3 separate regions of the Homo sapiens genome follow, and regions 1 and 2 are each linked to region 3. The links come from fine-mapping of genetic effects on gene expression. A gene starts in region 3. Each other region holds a variant in brackets. All regions are shown on one strand. Distances are between the middles of the regions.

Region 1 (8,185 bases), 530 kb after region 3:
AGAACATAGCCTCAAAAAGGCAAATCTAAGAGTTATTGGCCTTAAAGTGGAAGTAAAGAGAGATACTGAGGTAGAAAGTTTATTCAAACAAATAATAACAGAAAACTTTTTAAACCTAGAGAAATATCAATATCCAGGTACAAGAAGGTCATAGAACACAAAGAAGATTCAATCCAAATAAGACTATCTCAAGGCACTTAGTAAACTCTCAAAGGTAAAGGATAAAAAAAGGATTCTAAAAAGCAGCAAGAGAAAAAGAACAAATAACTTATATAGGAACTCCAATATGTCTGACAGCATATTTCTCAGTGGAAAGTTTTTAGGCCAGGAGAAAGTGAAATGACATATTCAAAATACTGAAGGAAAAATATTTCCATTCTATACTATTATATCCAGCAAAAATGTCCTTCAAACATGAAGAAGAAATAAAGACTTTTCCAGACAAACAAAAGCTGGGGAATTTGGTCAACACCAGACCTGTCCTACAAGAAATGCTAAAGAGAGTTTCTTAATCTGAAAGAAAAGGACATTAATGAATAATAAGAAACCAGCTAAAGGTGTAAAACTCACTAGTAGTAGTACACAGACAGATACAGAGTGCTCTAACACTGTAATTGTGGTGTGTAAACCACTCATATCGTGAGTAGGAAGACTAAAAGACCTATCAAAAATAATGACTACAACAACTTTTCGATAGATACATAGTATTAAAATATACAAATAGAAAAAACAAAAAGTCAAAAAGGATGAAAAGGATGGAGTTAAAAGGTAGAGATTTTTAGATTTTTTTTTTGTAATTAGAGTTGTCATCAGTTTAAAATAATTGATTATAAGATGTTATTTGCAAGCTTTATGGTAACCACAGATCAAAAATCTACAACAGATACCCAAAAATTTTTCCAAAAGAAATTAAAATATACTACAGAGAAAATCACTTTTACACAAAGGAAAATGGGAAGGAAGGAAGAAAGAAAGAGAGGACCAACAAAATAACCAGCAAACAAATAAGAAAATGGCAGTAGTAAATCTTATCTGTGAGTAATAACATTTAATGTAATTGGACCAAATTCTCCAGTCGAAAGACATAGTAGCTAAATGGATTAAAAAAAAAAAGACCTAAGTTTATGTTGCCTACAAGAAACATATGTCACCTATAAAGACACACATAGGCTGAAAATAAAGAAATGGAAAAAGATATTCAATGCAAATGAAAACAAAAAAAGAGCAAGAGCCAGGCATGGTGACTCACACCTGTAATCCTAGCACTTTGGGAGCTGAGGTGGGAGAATTGCTGGAGGCCAGGAGTTCAAGACCAGTTGGGCAACATAGCAAGACCCTCATCTCTACAAAAAATTTAAAAATTAGCTGAGTGTGGTGGCATGCACCTGTAGTCCTACCTACTTGGGAGGCTGAGGTAAGATGATCACTTGAGTTCAGGAGTTTGAGATTACAGTGAGCTATGATCACACCATTGCACTCCAGCCTGGGTAACAGAGTGAGACCCTGTTTCCAATTAAAAAAAAAAAAAAAGGAGCAGGAGGCAGGAGTAGCTATGCTTATATCAGATAAAATGGATTTTAAGATAAAAACTGTAAAAAGTGACAAAGAAGTTCATTCTATTATGATAAAGGGGTCGATTCTGCAAGAGACTATAACAGTTGTAAATATACCTACATCCGACACTGAAGTACCTAGATATATAATGCAAATATTATTAGAGCTAAAGAGAGAGACAGAACCCAATACAATAGTAGTTGGAGGCCTCCACATCACACTTTCAGCATTGGACAGGTCTTTTAGACAGAAAATCCACAAAGAAACATTGAACTTAGTCTGCAGTACAGACCAAATGGAGCTGATAACATTTACAGGACATTTCGTCCAACAGCTAAAGAATACACATTCTCTTCAACACGTGGAACATTCTCAGGTATAGAACATGTATTAGGCCACAAAATTTAAAAACATTAAATAATATAAAAATTCAAAAACATTGAAATCATATCGAGTATCTTTTCTGATCACAATGGAATAGAACTAGGAATTAATGACAAGAAGAACTTTGGAAACTATCCAAACACATGGGAATTAAACAATATGCTCCTGAGTGACCATTGAATCAATGAAGAAATTAAGAAAGAAGTTTAAAAAATTCTTGAAACAAATAAAAACAGAAACATAATATACCAAAACCTATGGGATATGCAAAAGTATTGTAGTACTAAGAGGGAAGTTTATAGCAATACATTTCTATATCAGAAAAGTAGAAAAACTTCAAATAAACAACCAATGATGCATCTTAAAAAACTAGAAGAGTAAGAGCAAACCAAACCCAACATTAGTGGAAGAAAATAAACAATAAAAATCAGATCGATCACTTGAGCCCAGGAGTTCAAGGATGCCGTGAGCTATGATTGCATTACTGCACTCTAGCTTGTAACAGAGTGAGACCCCAACTCTAAAAAAAAAATTAAATAAAACTACAGGCCAACATCTTTGATAAACATAGATGCAAAAGCCCTCAACAAAGAAACTGGCAAACCAAATTCAACAACACATTAAAAAGATAATTCGGGCTGGGCGCAGTGGGTCACGCCTGTAATCCCAGCACTCTGGGGGGCCAAGGTGGGCATACTGCTCAAGCCCAGGATTTCAAGACTAGCCTGGGCAACTTGATGAAACCCATTCTCTACTAAAACTACAAAAATTAGCCAGGTGTGATGGTATGCACTTGTAGTTCCAGCTACTCGGGAGGCTGAGGTGTGAGGATAGCTTGAGCCTGACAAGTTGAAGCTGCAGTATGCTGAGATCATGCCACTGCACTCCAGCCTGGGTGACAGAGTGAGACTCTGTCTCAAAAAAAATAAAAATAAAAATATAATTAATCATAATCAAGTGGGAATCATTGTAGGAATGCAAAAATGGGTCAATCTAGGCAACTCCATAAACTTGATACATTATAGCAATAGAATGAAGGACAAAAACATACGGTCATTTCAATTGGTGCTGAAAAAGCATTCAATAAAATTCAACATTCTTTTGTGATAAAAACTCAAAAAACCAGGCCTAGAAGGAACATATCTCAACATGATAAAAGCCATGTATGACATAACCATAGTTAGTATCATACTGAATGGGGAAAAAACAGCAAGACTTTCCTCTAAGATCTGGAACAAAACAAGGATGCCCATGTTGACCACTGTTATTCAGCCTAGCACTGGAAGTCCTAGCTGGAGCAATTAGACTGAAAGGAATAAAGGGCATCGAAATTGGAAAGGAAGAAGCCAAATTATACTTGTTTGCAAGT[G/A]ATATTATCTTATATTTAGAAAAATCTAAAGACTCTACCAAAAAAACTATTAGAACTGATTAATTCAGTAAGGTTGCAGGATAAAAGATCAACATAGAAAAATCAGTAGTATTTCTGTATGTCAACAGTGAACAATATGAAAAAGAAACCAAGAAAGTAATCCCATTTACAACACCTACAAAGAATATACAATACCTAGGAAATAACTTAACCAAGGAAATGAAAGCTGTCTACAATGAAACTATAAAACATTGATGAGGCCCGGTGTGGTGGCTCATGCTTGTAATCCCAGCACTTTGGAAGGCTGAGGCAGGTGGATCACCTAAGGTCAGGAGTTCGAGACCAGCCTGGTCAACACGGTGAAGCCCCATCTCTACTAAAAATACAAAAAATTAGTGGTGGCGGGTGCATGTATTCCCAGCTACTTGGGAGTCTGAGGCAGGAGAATTGCTTGCACCTGGGAGGTGGAGGTTGCAGTGAGCTGAGATCATGCCATTGCACTCCAGCCTGGGTAACAGAGCGAGACTCTGTCTCAAAACAAAACAAAAAAACCCCACAAAAACAAAAGAAAACAAAATGATGAAATACAGAGGACTCAAAAAAATGAAAAGATATCCATGTTCATGGATCGGAAGAATTAATATTGTTAAAATATCCATACTACCCAAAGAAATCTAGACATTCAATGCAATCCCTATGAAAATATTAATGACATTCTTCACAGAAATAGAAAAAATAATCCTAAAACTCATATGGAACCATAAAAGACTCAGAATGGTCAAAGCAATCCTGAGCAAAATGAACAGAACTGGAGACATCACATTACCTGACTTCAGATTATACTACAAAGCTATAGTAACCAAAACAGCATAGTACTGGCATCAAAACAGACACATAGATCAATGGGACAGAATAGAGAACCCTGAAATAAATTCGTGCATTTACAGTGAACTCATTTCTGACAAAGATACCAAGAACATGCATCGGAGAAGGGACAGTCTCTTTAATAAATGGTTCTGGGAAAACTGGATATCCACAAGCAGAAAAATGAAACTAGACCCTGATCTCTTGCCATATACAAAAGCAAATCAAAGTGGATTCAAAACTTAAATGTAAGATCTGAAACTATGAAGCTACTAGAAGAAAATATTGGGTAAACACTTCAGGATATTGGTCTGGGCAAAGATTTTTTGAGTAAGACCTCAAAGACCAAAATACCTCAAAGACCACAGGCAACCAAAGCAAAAATGGACAGATGAGATCACATCAAGCTAAAAAGCTTCTGTACAGCAAAGAAAACAATCAACAAAATGAAGAGACAACCCATGGAATTGAAAAAATATTTGCAAATTACCCATTTGACAAGAGATTAATAATCAGAATATCTAAGGAGCTCAAATAACTCGACAGTAAATAATCAAATAATCTGATTGGAAAATGGGCAAAAGATCTGAACAGACATTTCTCTAAAGAAGACATATGAATGGCCAACAGGTATATGGGTGTATGAAAAATGCTCAATGTCATCGATCATCAGAGAAATGCAAATTTAAAACCACAATGTGATATCACCTCACCCAGTTAAGATGGCTTTTATCCAAAAGACAGGCAATAATGAATGCTGGCAAAGATGTGGAGAAAGGGGAACACTTAAACACTATTGGTGGGAATGTAGTACAGGCACTGTGGAGAACAGCAGGAGGTTCCTCAAAAAACAAAAATGGAGCTACCATATGATCCAGCAATCTCACTGCTGTGTGTGTATCTAAAAGAAAGGAAATCAGTATATCAAAGAGATATCTACACTTCTGTGTTTATTTGCAACACTATTCAAAATAACCAAGATATGGAATCAACTTAAGTGTCCATCAGTAGATGAACAGATAAAGAAAATGTGGTATATATACGCAAGTTGGGCAGACCCTAGAATCACAGCAGATTCAGAGAGACTCCAGGGATGCCTCGTGGTCAGAAAAAATTTATAGATTAAAAAAAGGGAAGTGACATACAGAAATCAGAAGTGAGGCACAGAAACAGCTGAATTGGTTATAGGTTGGCGTTTGCCTTATTTGAACACAGTTTGAACACTTAGGAGTCTATGAGTGGTTGAAGTATGGCCACTGGGATTGGCCAAGACTCAGCTATTGTTACAGGTGCATACTCCTAAATTAGATTTTCGATCTTGTCTGCCTATTAAACTAGGTTACAGTTTGTCCATAAGGACTCAAATATAGAAATACAGAGTCCTTCTCAGGCCATATTTAGTTTGCTTTAACACTATGTAAAACATAGAAATATATGGAAATTGTACATAGGTAGTGAACAATTAGATTCAAGGTTAACTTGAATAACTGAACTCAGTAAGGTTGGCCCCAGTACATGACAAACTGCTATTTATGAAGATACTAATTCTTTTTAGAACAGGAGAGTTGGAAGTCTTTCCATGATGAAATAAATCAAAATTATGTTTTGTGGTGCCACAAACTGGGAGAGAATACCAATGATATCAAGTATTAAGTCACATATGACCCTGGGCGTATCATTTAATCTTTCTTGCCTTCAGTTTTCTCATCCGGAAAATGAGTTGTGTGAGGTTTAGAAAGAATGTATGTAATGAAGTTAGAAATAGCACTTACTAGGTGCTCAATAAATATTAGCAATTACTTCCTGTTAATTAAAAAGAAGCGTTGGAAGAATGAATTAAAAATAGAATTTTGGGAGTACTGATTGTAAATAAAGCATGTCCTAGAAACTCAATGTTTTAATAAGACAGACAAACTTACCAGTACACCAAATTGCTGAGTGACTATAAAAACCCAGGCCAAATTCAGTCCACTCCCAAGGGAAAACTAGCACTTAATCCTACCCTGCCACCTGCTGGCCCATGATAGACCAAAAATAACTATCTGGAAGTTCCAATTTCTCACTAAGTGAAAATAGTGGCAGAAATTAAGTTTATCTCAGACAAGTGATTAGGGCATGAGTCTTCAAGTATTTTTACTAGTGAACCACAGTATGAGAATCCTTATGTGTGATAGCCACAGTAATTTTTATTGATAACATTGATGAGTTGAGATGGTTTTGTTAAGCGTCTTATTAATATCTATGGTTCAAATATGAATCAAGGGCAGGCAGGGTGCAGTGGCTCACACCTGTAATCCCAGAACTTTGGGAGGCTGAGGCAGGCAGATCGCCTGAGTCCAGGAGTTCGAGATCAGCCTGGGCAACATGGCAAAACTCTGTCTCAACTAAAAATATAAAAAAGTAGCCAGGCGTGGTGGCATGTGCCTGTGGTCCCAGCTACTCAGGGGACTGAGGCAGGAGGATGGCTTGAGCCCAGGAGTTCAAGGCTGCAGTGAGCCCTGATTGTTTCACTGCACTCCAGCCTGGGCGAGGCCCTATCTCAAACAACAACAACAACAACAAAAAAATCAACAGCATATGGAAACTTTATTTATTACTATTTTCCCTTTGTATGTTAATTTTCATAGTTTTATTATGGTTTAATTTTGGTGGTATTCAACTTGAACTGATTATAATCAGCTTCAATTATTATGATTAATTGTAATTTACTAGACCAGAGGTCCCTATGAAACAGAATTGCCTGGTTTCTGTTTCATACTTATAGAATAGGAATATTTTTGGCTAAAGCTCAGGAAGCACTATTTTTTAAAAGCTTTCTATGTGATTCTCGTGCAACTAACTTTGGAGGCCATCATGCTTGATTATAAATTTCTTGAGGCAAGGACAGTTTTTTTCTTCATTTTTGTATTCTTGAGGCTTAAGAATGTCTAGTACAAGACAATTAGATAAATAAAGGAAAAAAGTTATACATAAATGAATGAACAAACACATGCATAGACAAACTAATTGATTCATGACTCCTGGGTAGTTAGCAACACAACAGTTGTGGCAAGCTTAAACCTCGTGGCCTTTTAATTTATGTGTACTAGCCAATTAGGTAAATATATTTTTGTTGTTTAAAGGTTTGACAGGATGCATTCTGGAATCAAGGTGGCTGCATGCTGGCCCCGCCAAGTTTTAGAGGATATGAGTAAAAGGAGATGGAACCAACCAAAGCTGCAACTTCAAAAATTGTATAGAGGTGTTGTATCCTAACAATGACTTCAGACTGATTATATTAATAAGGTATAAGGAAACAAAGGTAATTTCACTATTTGAATAAACATATATCTTGTTGTATTAATTTCTTTTCCAACTTAAAAAAAGTCAAATATACAGTTGAATTGATTTACAAATAGTTATTTGCCATTTTTACGTAACAAGAGGACATGGATGGGTTCACCTTTTAGCATCTTTAGGCCAAGTTATTCTGATCTTGTGGACTCTCTTAAAATTAAACAGTATTTAACTTTATTGGCAATGTAGAAAGGCAGTTACAATGCAGAGAGCAGACAAACTTAAACAAAGAACTGGCTGGGTGCGGTGGCTCACACCTGTAATCCCAACACTTTGGGAGGCTGAGGTGGGCAGATCATGTGAGGTCAGTAGATCCAGGCCAGCTTGGCCAACATGGTGAAATCTGTCTCTACTAAAAATAGAAAAATTAGCTGGGCCTGGTGGTGGGTGCCTGTAGTCCCAGCTACTTGGGAGGCTGAGACGGGAGAATTGCTTGAACCTGGGAAGCGGAGGTTGCAGTGAGCTGAGATCGCACCACTTCACTCCAGCCTGGGCGACAGAGCAAGACTCAATCTCAAAAACAAAAAAACAAAAGCAAAAAACTATTACTGAAGAGGTCCACTGTGTGCCTGGGAGAATTGACCCATAAACAATTAACTCTAAAACATAATTTAGTAAAATGATTTGATTTACTAAAAAAGGGAGAAAAAATAATCTGATTTTTCATTCAAAACAATT
Region 2 (8,185 bases), 27 kb after region 3:
TGCTTGAGGCCTGGAGTTTGAGACCAGCCTGGGCAACACAGTGAGACCCCACCTCTGAAAGAAAAAAATTAGCCAGGTGTGGTAGCATGCCTGTAGTCCCAGTTACGTAGGAGGCTAAGGCTGACGATCATTTGAGCCCAAGATGTCAAAGCTGCAGCCAGCCTAGGCAACAGAGCAAGATCTTGTCTCTTTTTCTTTTTTTTTAAATTAAGCTTTAAAAAACTTCCTGTCCTGTATGATAAATAGCAGAAAATAAAGTACATGCATTTTCCTACAGAGGCAGCTATGTAGGAAAAAAAGAATATGGGATTAGGAGTCCAGAAATACAAAATTTACATGTGTGGTGTTTTAGTATTTATTAACTCTGTGGCCTTGGGCAAGTTCTCAATGTCCTTAAGCCGATTTTTAGCTGCAGAAATCTGTCTTGCCTTCTTCCTAAGGACTTAACAGATGCTATTTTGTTACTTTATAAAAAGCCTTATAACTTCATTTTTTTTCTTAGCTTAGATCATGGTTTCTTAACCTCAGCACTATTGACTTTTGCACTAAGTAATTCTTTGTTGTAGGGACTGTTCTATGCATTGTAGATGTTTAGCAGAATCCTTAGTCTTTACCCAGTGGCATCTGAACTATTCTGACAACCAAAAACATCTCTAGGTGGTGCCAATGTTCCTAGAGGCAAATACCCCCAAACTCCCCCCCAATGAAAATCAGTGTCTTAGATTACTGGAGTAATTTTATAAAGTGTAGAATCCTAGAAAAGGAAGACATATATTTACATATATTAAAGGGGCTAGGAAATGTGCATTTAATGGGCTAAACTTGGCTTGTGCATATTCTATACAGTAAAAAAAAAAAGATTTTAACAACCCCCCCCCCCCTTTTTTTAAACAGCATTTGCTGACGCTGCTGTAGAACCTATTGATTTTCCAATTGCTCCTGTATATGCTGCATCTATGGTGAGAACAAAGTGAGGGGCGATACTCCATTATGCTAGCTTCTGGTTTGCTTATACCAAGGTTGCAGTTTTTAAGATTTTAAATGTTATCTGCCAAAGCAGAGAGATAGCTTGGTTTCAAATCTTCCCATGTCTTCTCCTGAAAAGAGTAAGAGCAACAAGGATAACAAACAAAAAAAAAAAAATAAAGAACAGCTCACAAACTACATCTTCAGTAGAACAGGTAAAACTACACATCTGAATTACTTGTAAGTATCATACAGAACTCACACACCTGGTGTGGTAACCACAAAGCGGAGGGAATGCTGGCTGATGGTTCCAGATCTAGAATGGAAAGCAACTAGTCACTCCCCAGGAGAGGACTCCATTCTGAAAGGGAACAGCTGGCAGCAGGTCTTCAGAGTAAATAGTAAAACTAGAGACAGAAAACCTACATATTCCAAATTGTCAGTAAGGGCTATCCAAGTCTCAGTGGGAAATTGCTAAGCAGTCACAGGAAAAGAAAGTTTTAGGGGTTCAGGGTTCTTAGAAATCTTAAGTAAATATTTCCTTTTGAGAGGGCCTCACCCTGACAGTAAACTTCTGTAAGCACCCAGATAAAAAAAATTGCAGAATTTTAGTAAAATCAGATTCTCCCCACTGCCCCCAACCCCCGCAATGAAAAAAAAAACTGCAGAATCAGTAGGAAACAAGAATAGAGAAGATCAGAAACAAGGGGCCAGTGGAGTGATGATCTGCTCAGAGCTAGCAGATCTCAGAAAATGAAAGGAACACGCAGCTTCTGAAAGTGAGTAACATCACGTTGGAAAGCAAGGGTAATAAACAATTCTGGATTCTGAAGGTAGAATAACTTCTGAGAGCTACAGACATAGCTATATATGGGTACCATATTTTGTTTTGTGTTGTTGGAACAGTGGAAGCTGTTTGAGCTGTATAGGCTAGAAAGCTACCCTTAGTCCACTAGTAGAAGAGAGGAAGATGGAGGAAGAGTTCCACGTTAATTTTATTATCGCTCACAACAATCAAATTTCTTCTGTAAAGAAAAAGGGCACTCACTAGTAATGTTTTAGGGCACTCACTAGTAATGTTTTAAAAAGTATTAGCATAGGGATAATCACTGGCACAAATACACCTTCCTGCATAGCTGAGGAACTACCAAAACAAAACAGATCATATAGTGTAAGATTTTAAATAAATGACTTACAATGAAACTGCAACAGATGTAAATATCTGTGGCCCAGATAACCCTACAGTAACATTTATAAAGCAGAAACTGCAGGGGATGCATTAATATCACTAATATTAGAAACTAATATACCTCTTTCATTAACAGTCAAGAACATAGAAATGGCTGGGTGCAGTGGCGCTCGCCTGTAATCCCAGCGCTTTGGGAGGCAGATCGCTTGAGCCTGGGAGGTCAAGGCTGCAGTGGGCCATGACTGTGCCATTCCACTTCAGCCTGGGTGACAGAGCAAGACCCTGTCTCAAAATAAATCAACAACAACAAAAAAGAATATAGAACCAAGCAACACACAATCAGTAAAGCAGAGCTTAAGAATATATAAAGCATTATGTGCCCCTAAATAGAAAATGTACCTTTTCAAATATCTGTGGAAAGAAAATCAAATTTTCTGTCCCCTATGTCAAAACAGACATAATGCAAACAAAATTCTTTGATATAATGGAATAAGATGAGCAACTAAAAATCTGAAAATGGGCCGGGTGCGGTGGCTCACGCCTGTAATCCCAGCACTTTGGGAGGCTGAAGTGAGCAGATCACCTGAGGTCAGGAGTTTGAGACCAGCCTGGCCAAACATGGTGAAACCCTGTCTCTACTAAAAATACAAAAAATTAGCTGGGCATGGTGGTGGGCATCTGTAATCCCAGCTACTCAGGAGGCTGAGACAGGAGAACTGCTTGAACCTGGGAGGCAGAGGTTATAGTGAGCCAAGATGGCGCCATTGCACTCCAGCCTGGGAGACAGAGCAAGACTGTTGGAAAAAAAAAAAATCTGAAAATAGAGATCCTTCCATCTGAAACCAAGAACTTCCATATTTAAATAACTTATGTCAAACTGTAGTATTTCAAGGAAATGATGACAGTAAGTTGTGATTGCTAATTATTTGAACATCATCTGTCTTTTAAAAAATTTAAGGTTCTTAAAGATGTGGGATTGAAAAAAGAAGATATTGCAATGTGGGAAGTAAATGAAGCCTTTAGTCTGGTTGTACTAGCAAACATTAAAATGTTGGAGATTGATCCCCAAAAAGTGAATATCAATGGAGGAGCTGTTTCTCTGGGACATCCAATTGGGTAGGTAAAAATAATAACTATATCTAGGTTAAGAGCTGCCTTTGTGTTTCTAGCTAAACTTAAAACTGCTTCATAATTCCCATTGCTCTTAAGTTTTCCTTCCTACCCATCTTTCATAAGGCAAAAACCATTTCTGATAGATGGTATCCAATACTGAACAGAGACCTGTCACATCTGTTATTTGAAACCTAATAATGTTTTATGCTGAAGAAGAAAAAGTGTACATTTAGACTTTTTACCCCCTTTTTCTCCTTCCTATTTATTTCATTAGCTTTAGGGTACCGTGGGTTTTGGTTACATGGATGAATTTATAGTGGTGGGGGCTGATTTCAGTGCACCTGTCAGTCACCCAATATGTAGTTTATCCCACATCCCTCTTCCATTATACTCTACTCTTCTATCCATTATACTGTTCTGTACTTTTAAAAGATCTGTGACCTGGCCAGGCACGGTGGCTCACGCCTGTAATCCTAGCACTTTGGGAGGCTGAGGTGAACAGATCACGAGGTCAAGAGATAGAGGCCATCCTGGCCAACATGGCGAAACCCTGTCTCTACTAAAAATACGAAAATTAGCTGGGTGTGGTGGTGCACGCCTGTAGTCCCAGCTACTTGGGAGGCTGAGGCAGGAGAATCGCTTGAACCCAGGAGGTGGATGTTGCAGTGAGCTGAGATTCTGCCATTGCACTCCAGCCTGGCGACAGAGCGAGACTCCATCTCAAAAAATGATCTAAGATCTGTGACCCTTCCTGAAACAAGTCCTCCAAGTTTTAGTTTTAGAATAGTAGTAGTTAATTCAGCAAGTAGTAGTGGCTAGTAAGGTTTTCAAGAAGTTAAATTGGAATAGAAACATTTTGGTTAGTCATAAATTCTGTACTTCATTAAAGAAGTAAATGCTTTCTTAATTTTAGGATGTCTGGAGCCAGGATTGTTGGTCATTTGACTCATGCCTTGAAGCAAGGAGAATACGGTCTTGCCAGTATTTGCAATGGAGGAGGAGGTGCTTCTGCCATGCTAATTCAGAAGCTGTAGACAACCTCTGCTATTTAAGGAGACAACCCTATGTGACCAGAAGGCCTGCTGTAATCAGTGTGACTACTGTGGGTCAGCTTATATTCAGATAAGCTGTTTCATTTTTTATTATTTTCTATGTTAACTTTTAAAAATCAAAATGATGAAATCCCAAAACATTTTGAAA[TTAAAAA/T]TAAATTTCTTCTTCTGCTTTTTTCTTGGTAACCTTGAAAAGTTTGATACATTTTTGCATTCTGAGTCTATACTTATCGAAATATGGTAGAAATACCAATGTGTAATATTAGTGACTTACATAAGTAGCTAGAAGTTTCCATTTGTGAGAACACATTTATATTTTTGAGGATTGTTAAAGGTCAAGTGAATGCTCTTTATAGGTAATTTACATTTAGTAAATTACGGTAAATTAAATTACTTCTCTTTACAGTAAGAGTTGGCTATTCTGGACAAACTAGCAGTGCTTCATATAATCACTCAAACCACAGTGTGTGCAGCAGTACTAGAAACAAGACAGAAGCCCATGTCCTCAGGGTCTAGAGTGGGGGCAATTTCTTATAACCTCAACATTCAGGGTTGGGGGAGGTCAAGCAGAAAACCCTGGAGTTTGGGCTCTGAATTACTATAGCAGCATAGAGAGTGGGAAGGGAGGTAGAAACTGATATGCTGAATGGATATATAAAAAAGGGAACAGATCACCACTTCCAATACACGACAATGCCTGTTCTTAAGCAGGACAGACTGTAACAGAAGTATCTCGCATTGCATTTTATCTGGGAAAAAATTAATTAATTAAAACGCTACAGGCAGGGGCTATGCACACTACCCTCAATTGCAGCTCTGAAGAGGGAAAACTCCCCCTCAGGAAGAGGAGGGGGCAGTAAAGGTCATTGTGTACACATTATCTGTTGGCAAATAATGTATTGTAGATCTTTTGAAGGAGCAAAATGACAATATATGGGAGAAATAGATTAGATTGCTCTTCAGATTCAGAGGAAGAGTAGAGTATTTTCAAAAACATCTGTAATCATCACCAACTTTTGAGGCTTGTTATGTGCTTTATATGTATAAACTCATTTAATTGTCACAAAAACTTCTAAGAGTGGGTACCATTATTATCCCTCCTTTATAAACAAGGAAATTGAGGCATAGAGTAGCTAAATAAATTCCAAGGGCAAAAAGCTGGCTAGGATTCAACTCCAAGTTAGTCAAGCTCCAGAGCCCACGTTCTTAACTTACTATGCTTTAGTTAAATGCCTTTCAATAATTATCTGCCCCGACTTACAAAAACTTCTAACTGAACCAGGAGCTGGATAAGATATAGGAGAAAAGGAAACCCAAAACATGAGAATACTTCATTGAAGATAAGCAGAAACTAACATTGCATCCAAAGGTCATTGATCTGGAAAACATCTGAGAAGTGCTCTGACAATTCTGGGAAAAAATGGAAAAGAGAGAAGAAACAGAGAATCAAGTAAGTAGGTTTTTTAATTTGTTTTAAAGAGATAAGGTATTGCTCTGTCGCCTGGGCTGGAGTGCAGTGGCATGACCATAGCTCACTGTAACCTTGAACTCCTGGGTTCTCAAGTGATCTGCCTCCCTCAGCCTCCTGAGTAGTTAGGACTATAGGCACATGCTACCATGCACAGCTTAAATGGTGTTTCCTAAAAAAAAAAAAAAAGATACTCTGAAGCAATAATTTAATATAACAGAAAACATAAAGATAATAGAAAAACTCAGATTTTTAAGTCCTAAGGGGGAAGATTTTAAAGAGCATTTTTTTTTTTTCTTTTTTGAGACAGAGTTTTGCTTCGTAGCTCAGGCTGGAATGCAGTGGCACGATCTTGGCTCACTGCAACCTCCGCTCCCTGGGTTCAAGCGATTCTCGTGCCTCAGCCTCCTGAGTATACAGGCATGCGCCACCAAACCTAGCTATTTTATTTTCAGTAGAGAGAAGAGTTTTGCCATGTAGGCCTGGCTGGTCTCGAACTCCTGACTTCAGGTGATCCTTCTGCCTCGGCCTCCCGAAGTGCTGGGATTATAGGCATGAGCCACCACGCCCAGCCCTAAAGAGCATATTTTATTGGCAAAATTAATTAGCAGAAAATCATACTAAGACATTCTGGAGAAAATGTATTAAATTCCTCTAACATCTAGTTAGAAAAATAGGTAGCCACAGTTCTTATTTCTATTACATTCAATCCAAGAAAACAAGTGACAGGACATCTAACTGTTTTTAATGAAACAAAATAAGATACTAAAAGGTGTGTCTCAAACACAGAAAAGTTTAGAAAATAAAGTACTCTGATGTTTCCTCCAAAAATGACAAAGGTTTAGGCAAGCCCATGGAATGAAGAATTAAGAATTCAGTTAGGTGAAAGTTTCTAATTTTTTAAATGACTGCTTAAGGACTGGCTGGGGAAGAAGGAAAGGTAGTGGTTGAAGGAAATAAAAATGTTTTACCTCAAATTATATTTATTTGACATATTTTGAGATGGCTATCAGAGGGCCAGCAAACAGAAGTGGTGCTGCAAAGCTGTCTTTTTTGAAAGAAATCTGCGTCTATGGAGAATCTCCATTAATGCAGCCAGGACTTCCCTTGTCTGGAATCTAGAAAAGGTTAAATGAGAGCCTGTCTGACACCTTTAAAGGTCTTAAACATTTAACATCCATTCTCTCAGAAAGCTTCTAACAAGACCACCTTTCCTAGCCAGGTCTCCTTTCCCTACCCGTAACCTGTGTTGCCACTAAAACCTGATTTACCAAAATAACATGTTTTTGGCCATGCTGGGAGCTCACATTACTTCTGTAACCTGAAGATGGTATAAAGTTCCTACACCTGGCCGGACACAGGGGCTCATGTCTGTAATCCTGGCACTTTTGAGAGGCCCAGATGGGCAGCTCACCTGAGGTAAGAAGTTCGACAGCAGTCTGGCCAACATGGTGAAACCCTGTCTCTACTATAAATACAAAAATTAGCCGGTCGTGGTGGCGCATGCCTGTAGTCCCTGCAACTCAGGAGGCTGAGGTGGAAGAATCGCTTCAACCCAGGAGGCAGAGGTTGCAGTGAGCCAAGATCACACCATTGGACTCTAGCCTGGGCAACAGAGTGAGACTGTCTCAAAAAAAAAAAAAAAAAAAAGTTTCTACACCCCACTGGGGGCGGGGTCAGGTCTTTGTCTGAAGGCCCCCATGTATACAACATTAAATAAATGTATATTCCTTTTCTCCAATTAATCTGCCTTTTGCAAACAGCTTTATTTTCCAGCAAACCTTCAGAGGGCCAAGGGGAACTTCAAGGTTACAGTGAAATGATCCTGCCACTGTACTGGGGGACAGAGGGAGACCTTGTCTCTTAAACAAAGAAAAGAAATACCATTTACTTTCTGGTTCTCTATTTTTTCTCTTCCTTTCCATTTTTTCCCCAGAATTTTCAGAGCACTTTTCAAATGTTTTCCAGATCACCAACCTTTGGATGCACTACTTACCTTCAGTGAAGTATTCTAAAATATGTTGAGTTTCCTTTTTTCCTTGTATTTTCCTTTTTTTTCTTGTGTTTTACACCTACCTCCTGGTTTCCCTTGGCCTTTACATGGTGAAATATCGGTAACATGTTATCTTTATCTGCTAAATAAAGGTAAACGCTAGTAGGACAAGTTCTGAGACTGCCCTCACGGGACTTACAAGAATTGCATGCTGGGTCCTGGACAGAAATATAGTTATAACTAGGCACTAAACAGGCTGCACCTTGGCCCACTTCCTAAACCCTCGGGGAGAGATTTGAAGTTTCCTCCAGTCTCCTCATTCGGTGGCCCTGCAATTAAACATCTTTCTTTGCTGCAGCCCAGGGTCTTACATACTGACTTGTCATGCACAATGGGCAATGGAC
Region 3 (8,185 bases):
GAGTCTTAACTCGAAGTACCTATGAATGTGACTATTTGGAAATAGAGAACTTGCAGGTGTAATCAAATTAAGATGAGGTCATAATTGGATTTGGATGGGCCCTAAATCCAATGACCAGTGTCCTTATAGCAAGAGTGGAGAAAAAGCCACACACAGGGGAGAAGACAGGGGTTGGACTGATGCCTCTACAAAGCCAGGAATACCAAGGATTTCCAACAACCACCACGATCTTGGAGAGAGGCATGGAACAGACTCTCCGTTAGAACCCACAGAAAGAACCAATCCTGCCAACACCTGGATCTTGGACTCCAGCCTCCAGAACTGTAAGAAAATACATTTCTTTTGTTTTAAGCCACCCAGTTGGTGGTAATTTGCTGCTGCAATCTTAGGAAACAAATACAGATTTTGGTACTGAAAAGTGGGGTGCTGCCATATTAATATACACAAACATGGAAGTGCCTTTATTAATAGATTGGGGTGATGGGCAGAGGAAGAAGTTTGAGGCACATGATAGACTAAGCCTAGATTGCCTTGAAGAGAAAGTGGGTGGAAATGTGAGTGCCCCATCTCTACAAAAAATAAAAATTAGGTGGGCATGGTGACACACGTGTAGTCTTAGCTACTTGGAAGGCTGAGGCAGGAGGATTACTTGAGCTTAGGAGGCTGCAGTGAGTTATGATCGCACCACTGCACTCCAGCCTGGGTGACAGAGCAAGGCTCTGTCTCTCTCTTTTTTTTTTTTTTTGGAGACAGAGTTTTGCTCTGTCGCCCAGGCTGGAGTACAGTGGCACGATCTCGACTCACTGCAACCTCCACCTCCTGGGTTCAAGCGATTCTCTTGCCTCAGCCTCCTGAGTAGCTGGGCTTACAGAAGCCCATCACCACACCCAGCTAATTTTTTGTATTTTTACTAGAGACAGGGTTTCACCATGTTAGCCGGGCTGGTCTGGAACTCCTGACCTCAGGTGATCTGCCCTCCTTGGCCTCCCAAAGTGCTAGAATTACAGGCATGAGCCACCACACCTGGCCAGAGACCCTGTCCCTTAAACAAACATATCTTTTGGAAGGACACTGTTTAACGTAGTACAACGAGTTATTCCAGTAGTCTAAGTTTGACAGAAGTTGTTCGTTGTAGAAGAACTTACTTGGAAATGAATATCAAACATCTTTGTATTATAAATATAATACCCACAAGTTTTTCTTAAATGTTTTTAATTTTCCACTAGTTTCCTGCTGTGAAAATATTGCTCTAATATTCCTAAAACTAACTTCTACTTCTAGAAAGCCACTCTGGGTCTCATGGACATTTCAGAGGGCTTTATTTTATCAATATTTTAATAATACTTTGCAAGACCTAAGTCTCCACTTACAAGTTTGCCACTAGATGGAGGTATTGACTAGATCTCCTTGACAAATGTAATAAATCCCAGATAAACCACTTTTTGAGTAGCTCTTCATTAATACATCTGTCCAGACACTATTGCCTGCTATGACAGGAATGATAATCCAAAGCCACAAATTCAGATATGCAAAAAATGTTTTTAAATTTTTTCTTTGGCCAGGTGTGGTGGCTCACACCTGTAATCCCAGCACTTTGGGAGACTGAGGGAGGATTGCTTGGGCCCAGGAGTTGGAGACCAGCCTGGGCAACATAGTGAGAACCTGTGTCTACCAAAATACTAGTACTAATAATAATAAATTTTAAAATACAAACAAAAATAATTCTCTCTTAATTGTATTTAATTTTCATTCCAACACTCCATTTCTATTTCACAGAAGAAATGTTAATCTAGTCACTTTCTTTTTTTTTTTTGAGACGGAGTCTCGCTCTGTCACCCAGGCTGTAGTGCAGTGACACGATCTTGGCTCACTGCAAGCTCCGCTTCCTGGGTTCACGCCACTGTCCTACCTCAGCCTCCCAGGTAGCTGGGACTACAGGTGGCCCCCTCCATGCCCAGCTAATTTTTTGTATTTTTAGTAGAGACAGGGTTTCACCGTGTTAGGATGGTCTCGATCTCCTGACCTTGTGATCCGCCTGCCTTGGCCTCCTAAAGTGCTGGGATTACAGGCGTGAGCCACCGCGCCCGGCCAAGTCCTAGATTCTTAAATGAAATTATTAGCTACATTTTTGCCTGGTGCTCATATTGGTGATAAAGCTACTCTTATTTTTTTGAAGTTTAGTTTTAAAGAGCAGCTTGCCTGCTGTAGCTCCAGAAATAAATGTACTATTCTTCTCCCCTCAATGCTCCTAAATGTCTCTGAACTTCTCTAGAAGCTGTCCTGATGAACATAGTGGCACTTTTTCCTGGTAGTGCCTCTGATGGCAGAATTGTCCAATTACAGCTGACTTCTATGTTCCTAGTTAGGTTTCTCCTAGGGCAGGTGTCTCCTAAGACACAACTAGTGTAGTGAGTGCCTAGAAGCCTAGACCTAGCAACCAGACTGCCTAGATTCCAATTGCAACTGTGTCACTAACTACTAGCTTTGTGCCCTTGGACAAACTTCTGGAAAATGTGGATAATGCTACTCCCTAATTCAGTGGATTTTTGGGAGAATTAAAATTAAACTGTAAAAGAACTGGTTCATATTAAGAACTATGTACATAGCTATGTAACCAGTCTTTTTTTTTTTCTTCTTTTTTTGAGACACAGTCTCATTCTGTTGCCCAGGCTGGAGTGCAGTGGTGTGATCTCAGTTCACTGCAACCTCCACCTCCCAGGTTTAAGCAATTCTCCTGCCTCAGCCTCCTGAGTAGCTGGGATCACAGGTGCCCACTACCATGCCCAGCTAATTTTTGTATTTTTAGTAGAGATGGGGTTTTGCTATGTTGGCCAGGCTGCTTTTAACTCCTGACTTCAAATGATCCACTCACCTGGGCCTCCCAAAGTGCTGTGATTACAGGCGTGAGCGACCACGCCCAGCCTAACCAGTCATCTTTTACTGTGTGATACCCTAGTCATCAGCTTTGGCCTCTCACAACTGGTAATCTCTATGAGGCCAGACCTTTAGTTTTCTGAGTCATTTCTTTAACAATTCAACTTTTTCAGTTAGAAATATCTGTTTCTCTCTCTCTCTCTCTCTCTCACACACACACACACACAAAGTTTAAACACTGACATACAATGTAATGACTTCCTTTCAATAATTCTCGAAGCAGCCCAGTATGAAAAATATTTGTCTTTGGCCTCTGGTAGAAGGGAAAGGTGTGAGTGTGACATTCCAAGGAAGGAGGTAGGCCTTGGTGAGCTGTTGAATAGAGAGGTTCTTCGGTGCAGGAATCACAGGGGACTTTAAGGGACAAACCTGGAGTGATGGGGAAATTAAAGACAGGGTGCTATATTAAAAAATTACCCTGGCCGCGTGCAGTGGCTCACGCCTGTAATCCCAGTACTTTGGGAGGCCTAGTGGGGGCGGATTGCGTGAGCTCAGGAGTTTGAGACCAGCCTCTGGGCAACATGGTGAAAACCCGTCTCTACTAAAATACAAAAGATTAGCCAGGCTTGGCAGCGTGCGCCTGTAATCCCAGCTACTCGTGAGGCTGAGGCGAACTCAGGAGGCAGAGGTTGCAGTGAGTCAAGATCGCGCCTGGGTGACAAGTGCGAGACTGTCTCAAAAAAAAAAATTACCCCCAAACAGACCTATTTAGGTGGCTTATGCCTATAATATCTGTGCTTTGGGAGGCCAAGGCCAGAAGATCTCTTAAGGCCAGGAGTTTGAGACCAGCCTGGGCAACATAGCAAGACCCCTTCTCTATATAAAATAAAAATTAAAAAAATTAGCATGGTGGAGCATGCCTGTAGTCCTAGCTACGTAGCTACTTGGGAAGCAGAGACAGGAGGATCCCCTAGCTACTTGGGAGGCAGAGACAGGAGGATCCCCTGAGACCAGGAGTTTGAGGCTGCAGTGAGATATGATTGCACCACTGTACTCCAGACTGGGTGACAAGAGCGAGACCCTATCTTAAAAAAAAAAAATACTCCAAAACATAATGGCCTAAAATAACAACCATTTGTTTTCTCTCGTTTCTGTGGACCATGAATTCAGACAGCATGGTGGGTATGGCTTGTCTCTGCTCCATGATGTCTGGGGTCTCAGCTGGAGTGGTTGAAGGTTGGGGACTGGAATCACCTGAGGCCTTTTTACCCATATTTGTATCTGGACTGAGCCTGGAATTTGATTGCTTCAAAATATTTTCACGGCTGGGTGTGATGGCTCACGCCTGTAATCCCAGCACTTTGAGAGGCTGAGTCTGGCCGTCTGCTTGAGCCCAGGAGTCAGCAACCAGCCTAGGCAACATAGGGAGACCTAGTCTCTACAAAAAAAAAAAAATACAACAATTTGCTGGGCGTGGTCGCCTGCGCCTGTAATCCCAGCACTTTGGGAGGCCGAGGAGGGAGGCTCACTTGAGTCCAGGAGTTCAAGACCAGTCTGGCCAACATGGTGAAACCCCGTCTCCACAAAAAATACAAAAATTATCTGGTTGTGGAGGCTTTCGCCTGTAGTCTCAGCTACTGGGATGGCTGGGGAGGGAGGATCGCTTGAGCCCTGATGGTCGAGATTACAGTGAGCTGTGGTCACGTCACTGCACTCCAGCTTGGGTGACAGAGTGAGACCTTGTCTCAAAAAAAAAAAAAAAAATCCTAAAATATTTTCATGAGTTTGTGCTGGGTAGGCCTAAGGGAAACATGCTCAGTAAATCGAAAAATCTCGGATTACACATAAACCACCGGCCCCGGCAGGTTAGACTTGGTGGACACGGGAGCCAGCAGCGTGTCAGGTGCTCGTTGACCCCAGCGCCAGTGTCTCCATCCACGTCCTTCACTCGTCAACCTTTCCTGGCCCAGGCTGCGGTGTCCCAGCGCCAGGCTCCGCCCCGCCCTTGGCTGCCGGCCAATCGCCGCCGACTGAGAGGCGACTATTGGAGGAAGCGGGATGGGCGGTGCCCGCGCCGGGCCGCTAGGGGTGCGGGGTTGGGGAGGAGGCCGCTAGTCTACGCCTGTGGAGCCGATACTCAGCCCTCTGCGACCATGGCTGTGCTGGCGGCACTTCTGCGCAGCGGCGCCCGCAGCCGCAGCCCCCTGCTCCGGAGGCTGGTGCAGGTGAGCGGGGTTCGTCCCCACAGCACTCAGACCCGGGATGCGAGGAGTCCCCGCCTCGGAAGCTTCCAGCCCGCGGCCGTTGCGGCTCCCGCGGCCCGGGCGCGCGGCTTAGGCCCCAGGACAGTCACGCGACGGGTTCTGGTCCAAAAACCGCCTAAGTGCTCCGATAACACCCAGGGACTCGCCTATTTTTACAGCGCGTTTCTACTTCCAAGGTCTCGGCGTAATCATCTTAATGAGCGTTACTGGTGTGTCAAACAAGGGCACGTGTCTGGGCGGGCAGGACCGCCAGGATTGGCGCTGGCCCGGCCTGAGCGGTGGGATCGGGGAGAGTCTCTTTGCAGGCCTGTGCAGCTGCTCCCGAGATTTTCTTTAAAACATATTTGTGTGCGTTATTGTCAGGAGAGGTTCCTTTTCTTTTTTAATACAATAGATAATCATTGGGCATACAAGGGGAGAGGGCACCATGTGATCATAACAGATGTTTTTTGGAGCAGCCTGAAATTTATCAGGGAAAACAAATGACTACTCAGATAATACAATAAATTATACTTGACATATGAGCAAAGCTCACATACTGAGGGCGTTCCAAGGGCTGTCGCTCTTCTGACCGTTGTGTTTAGGGAACACAGCAGGGGCAGAGTCTCAAAGAATTTATTCTCCACATGCGTAAGCAAGGGAGTACGCACCACAGATTGTCAGGCAAAGCCTCAGGAATAGGTAGAGACCTTCAGGGTGTGGTTGGTGAAGCTTGAGTTTTCTAGGTCGATGGGGGCAATAAGCTTGGAGATCCAGTTATGTTGTGAGTATGGACTTGACCCTAGTTAAGTAGGGATTGTTGATATGTTTGTTTTTGTTGCAATGGTAGGTCACTCTAGTTCTTACGTCTGGGCGTAGAATAACATTACTTGCACAAGGGTGCTGGCGGTAGGAGCTTTGCAAGAGATTGTAAAAGAACCAGTCTAGGACTTGACAATTAGGGAGTGAGGGTGCGAAGCCAAGGGAAAAGAAAGAGTCTAAAATTGATCCTGGGTGACTGAGATAATAGAAAAGTCACAAGGCGTAGGTTTCCAGGGAAGATGAGTTTTTAGCCTATTTGTTAGTCTCATGGGATGAGTGAAGAAATCACAAGAAAGTAATTAGGTTATCTTGGGTTTCAGTCAGTATTGACTAGGTGACATAGGTGAACTAGGTACTCTAGAGATGTAAAAAAAAAAAGTTCAGAACCTTCTTAATTTATGGTTTAATTAAGATCTTACAATCAGGTTGGTTGAGGTGGCTTATGCCAGTAATCCCAGCACTTTGGGAGGCCGGGGTGGGTAGATCATTTGAGGTCAAGAGTTCAAGACCAGCCTGGCCAACGTGGTGAAGCCCCACCTCTATTAAAAATACACACACACACAAAAATTAGCTGGGTGTGGTGGCAGGCGCCTGTAATCCCAGCTACTTGGGAGGCTGAGGCAGGAGAATCGCTTGAACCCGGGAGGAGGGGAAGGTTGCAGTGAGCTGAGATCATGCCACTGCACTCCAGCCTGGGCAACAGAGTGAGACTCCGTCTTAAAAAAAAAGATCTTAAAATGAAACACAAATACTCCTCATGAAAAAAATAAGCCTGTACATGCTGTAATGTATGATATGTGACATTCATATTACTGAACTCTAGGAAGCAGTTGTATTGGACACTTGAATTAAATGGTCATTTACTGAACTATAAACAGGATTTCCAGTTTTCTGTGCTATTTTGTAGAATGGAATTTGACCTCTCATTACATTGGCTCTTTTCCCTTTGCTTACCAGGTCTCTTTTATGGTCAACAAATCTTTATGGACTTTATTGGAGCACATTGCCTTTCTAGCTCTAATCACTTTTCTCTCTCTGGTCAAAGGAGTGGTCTTTACTCATTACCTCCCATGTATTCTGCATCTATTTCTCCTTAACTCTCTGCAGTTAAATTTCTTTGCCACTGAAGCTGAAAAATACAGTGATTTCCTTTTTCTTTGTTTTTTAATTATTTTTTTAAATCTATTTTAATTTTAGTTTTTGTAGACACGGGGTCTGGTTCTGTTGGCCAGGCTGGTCTTGAACTCCTGGCCTGCCAAAGTGCTGGGATTACAGGTGTGAGCCATTGTGCTCAGCCCAAGTTTTTTCTTCTTGACCTTTATCCTATATTTGACACTATTGACCACTCCCTTCTTGAAACTGTTTTGTGTTTTGATCCAGTTTTATTCAGCTTCTTTTAATACTCAGACTTAAAAAAAAATTCCTGTATTGTGCCAGTCTTGGGCTTATTTGCTCCCAGATTCATTTATCTTCCCTCCCCTAGTCTGTCTGCATTACTGTAGGCTGACCAATATCAGCTGGCTTCTGGCTGGGTGTAGCCACTGGAAGGCACCAGTGGAAGATTGGAAGATAGGAGGAAGGGAGAAGCCAGAATAATTTGTCTGTCTGTCTGTATCTGGCAGTGTCTGTCTCTCTTGTGGTTCCCGCTTCTGCTGGGATCCTGACCCCTTGGCTTTGGTAACCTTGCTTCTTCCCTTTGACCTAACAGCCTGTATGCTACTTCCTTCCTGTTGCTAATTTCTTTCTTTCTTTTTTATTTTTTGAGATCAAGTTTCGCTCTTGTTGCCCAGGCTGGAGTGCAGTGGCACGATCTTGGCTTACTGCAACCTTGGCCTCCCGGGTTCAAGCAGTTCTCCTGCCTCAGCCTCCTGAGTAGCTGGGATTACAGGCATGTGCCACCACACCCGCTACTTTTTGTATTTTTAGTAGGGACGGGCTTTCACCATGTTGGTCAGGATGGGCTCGAACTCCTGACCAGCTCACCAGGTGATCCACCTCTGATGATCTGCCCACCACAGCCTCCTAAAGTGATTACAGGTGTGAGCCACCACACCTGGCCCCCTTCCCTTTTTCTAATCTTACCCTAGTACACTCAGTTCCCCCGCAGCCAGAGTGGTCTTTTTATAACATAAAAGCTTTCAGTGGCTTGTCATTGCCCATAGGCCAGAATCTAGACCCTTATGATCTGCTGGGCCCTACTTAGTTCTGTGGCCTCAGCTGCTGCCGTGCTCACTCTGCTTTTGCCA

What was found.
Region 1: its variant is fine-mapped to the expression of ACAT1 in anterior cingulate cortex (GTEx, PIP 0.96).
Region 2: its variant is fine-mapped to the expression of ACAT1 in cerebellum (GTEx, PIP above 0.99). The same link has a PIP of 0.9 or more in lung, tibial artery and whole blood.

Annotation. Positions count from the first base shown.
Region 1 is chr11:108,649,019-108,657,203 of GRCh38, forward strand. No RefSeq gene overlaps it. Among named protein-coding and RNA genes, the nearest start is that of DDX10, 12 kb to the right of the region's middle. The variant G/A (reference allele first, on the strand shown) is at 3,308.
Region 2 is chr11:108,143,089-108,151,273 of GRCh38, forward strand. ACAT1 (acetyl-CoA acetyltransferase 1) reads left to right here. Exons shown (of 12, transcript NM_000019.4): 10 at 895-959; 11 at 3,114-3,271; 12 at 4,182-4,515. The coding sequence ends at 4,302. Among named protein-coding and RNA genes, the nearest start is that of ACAT1, 26 kb to the left of the region's middle. RefSeq lists a silencer at 7,681-7,849. The variant TTAAAAA/T (reference allele first, on the strand shown) is at 4,469.
Region 3 is chr11:108,116,580-108,124,764 of GRCh38, forward strand. It overlaps ACAT1 (acetyl-CoA acetyltransferase 1), which reads left to right and starts at 4,988. Exons shown (of 12, transcript NM_000019.4): 1 at 4,988-5,099. The coding sequence starts at 5,028. RefSeq lists silencers at 4,650-5,188, 4,790-5,199 and enhancers at 7,425-7,544, 7,605-7,664.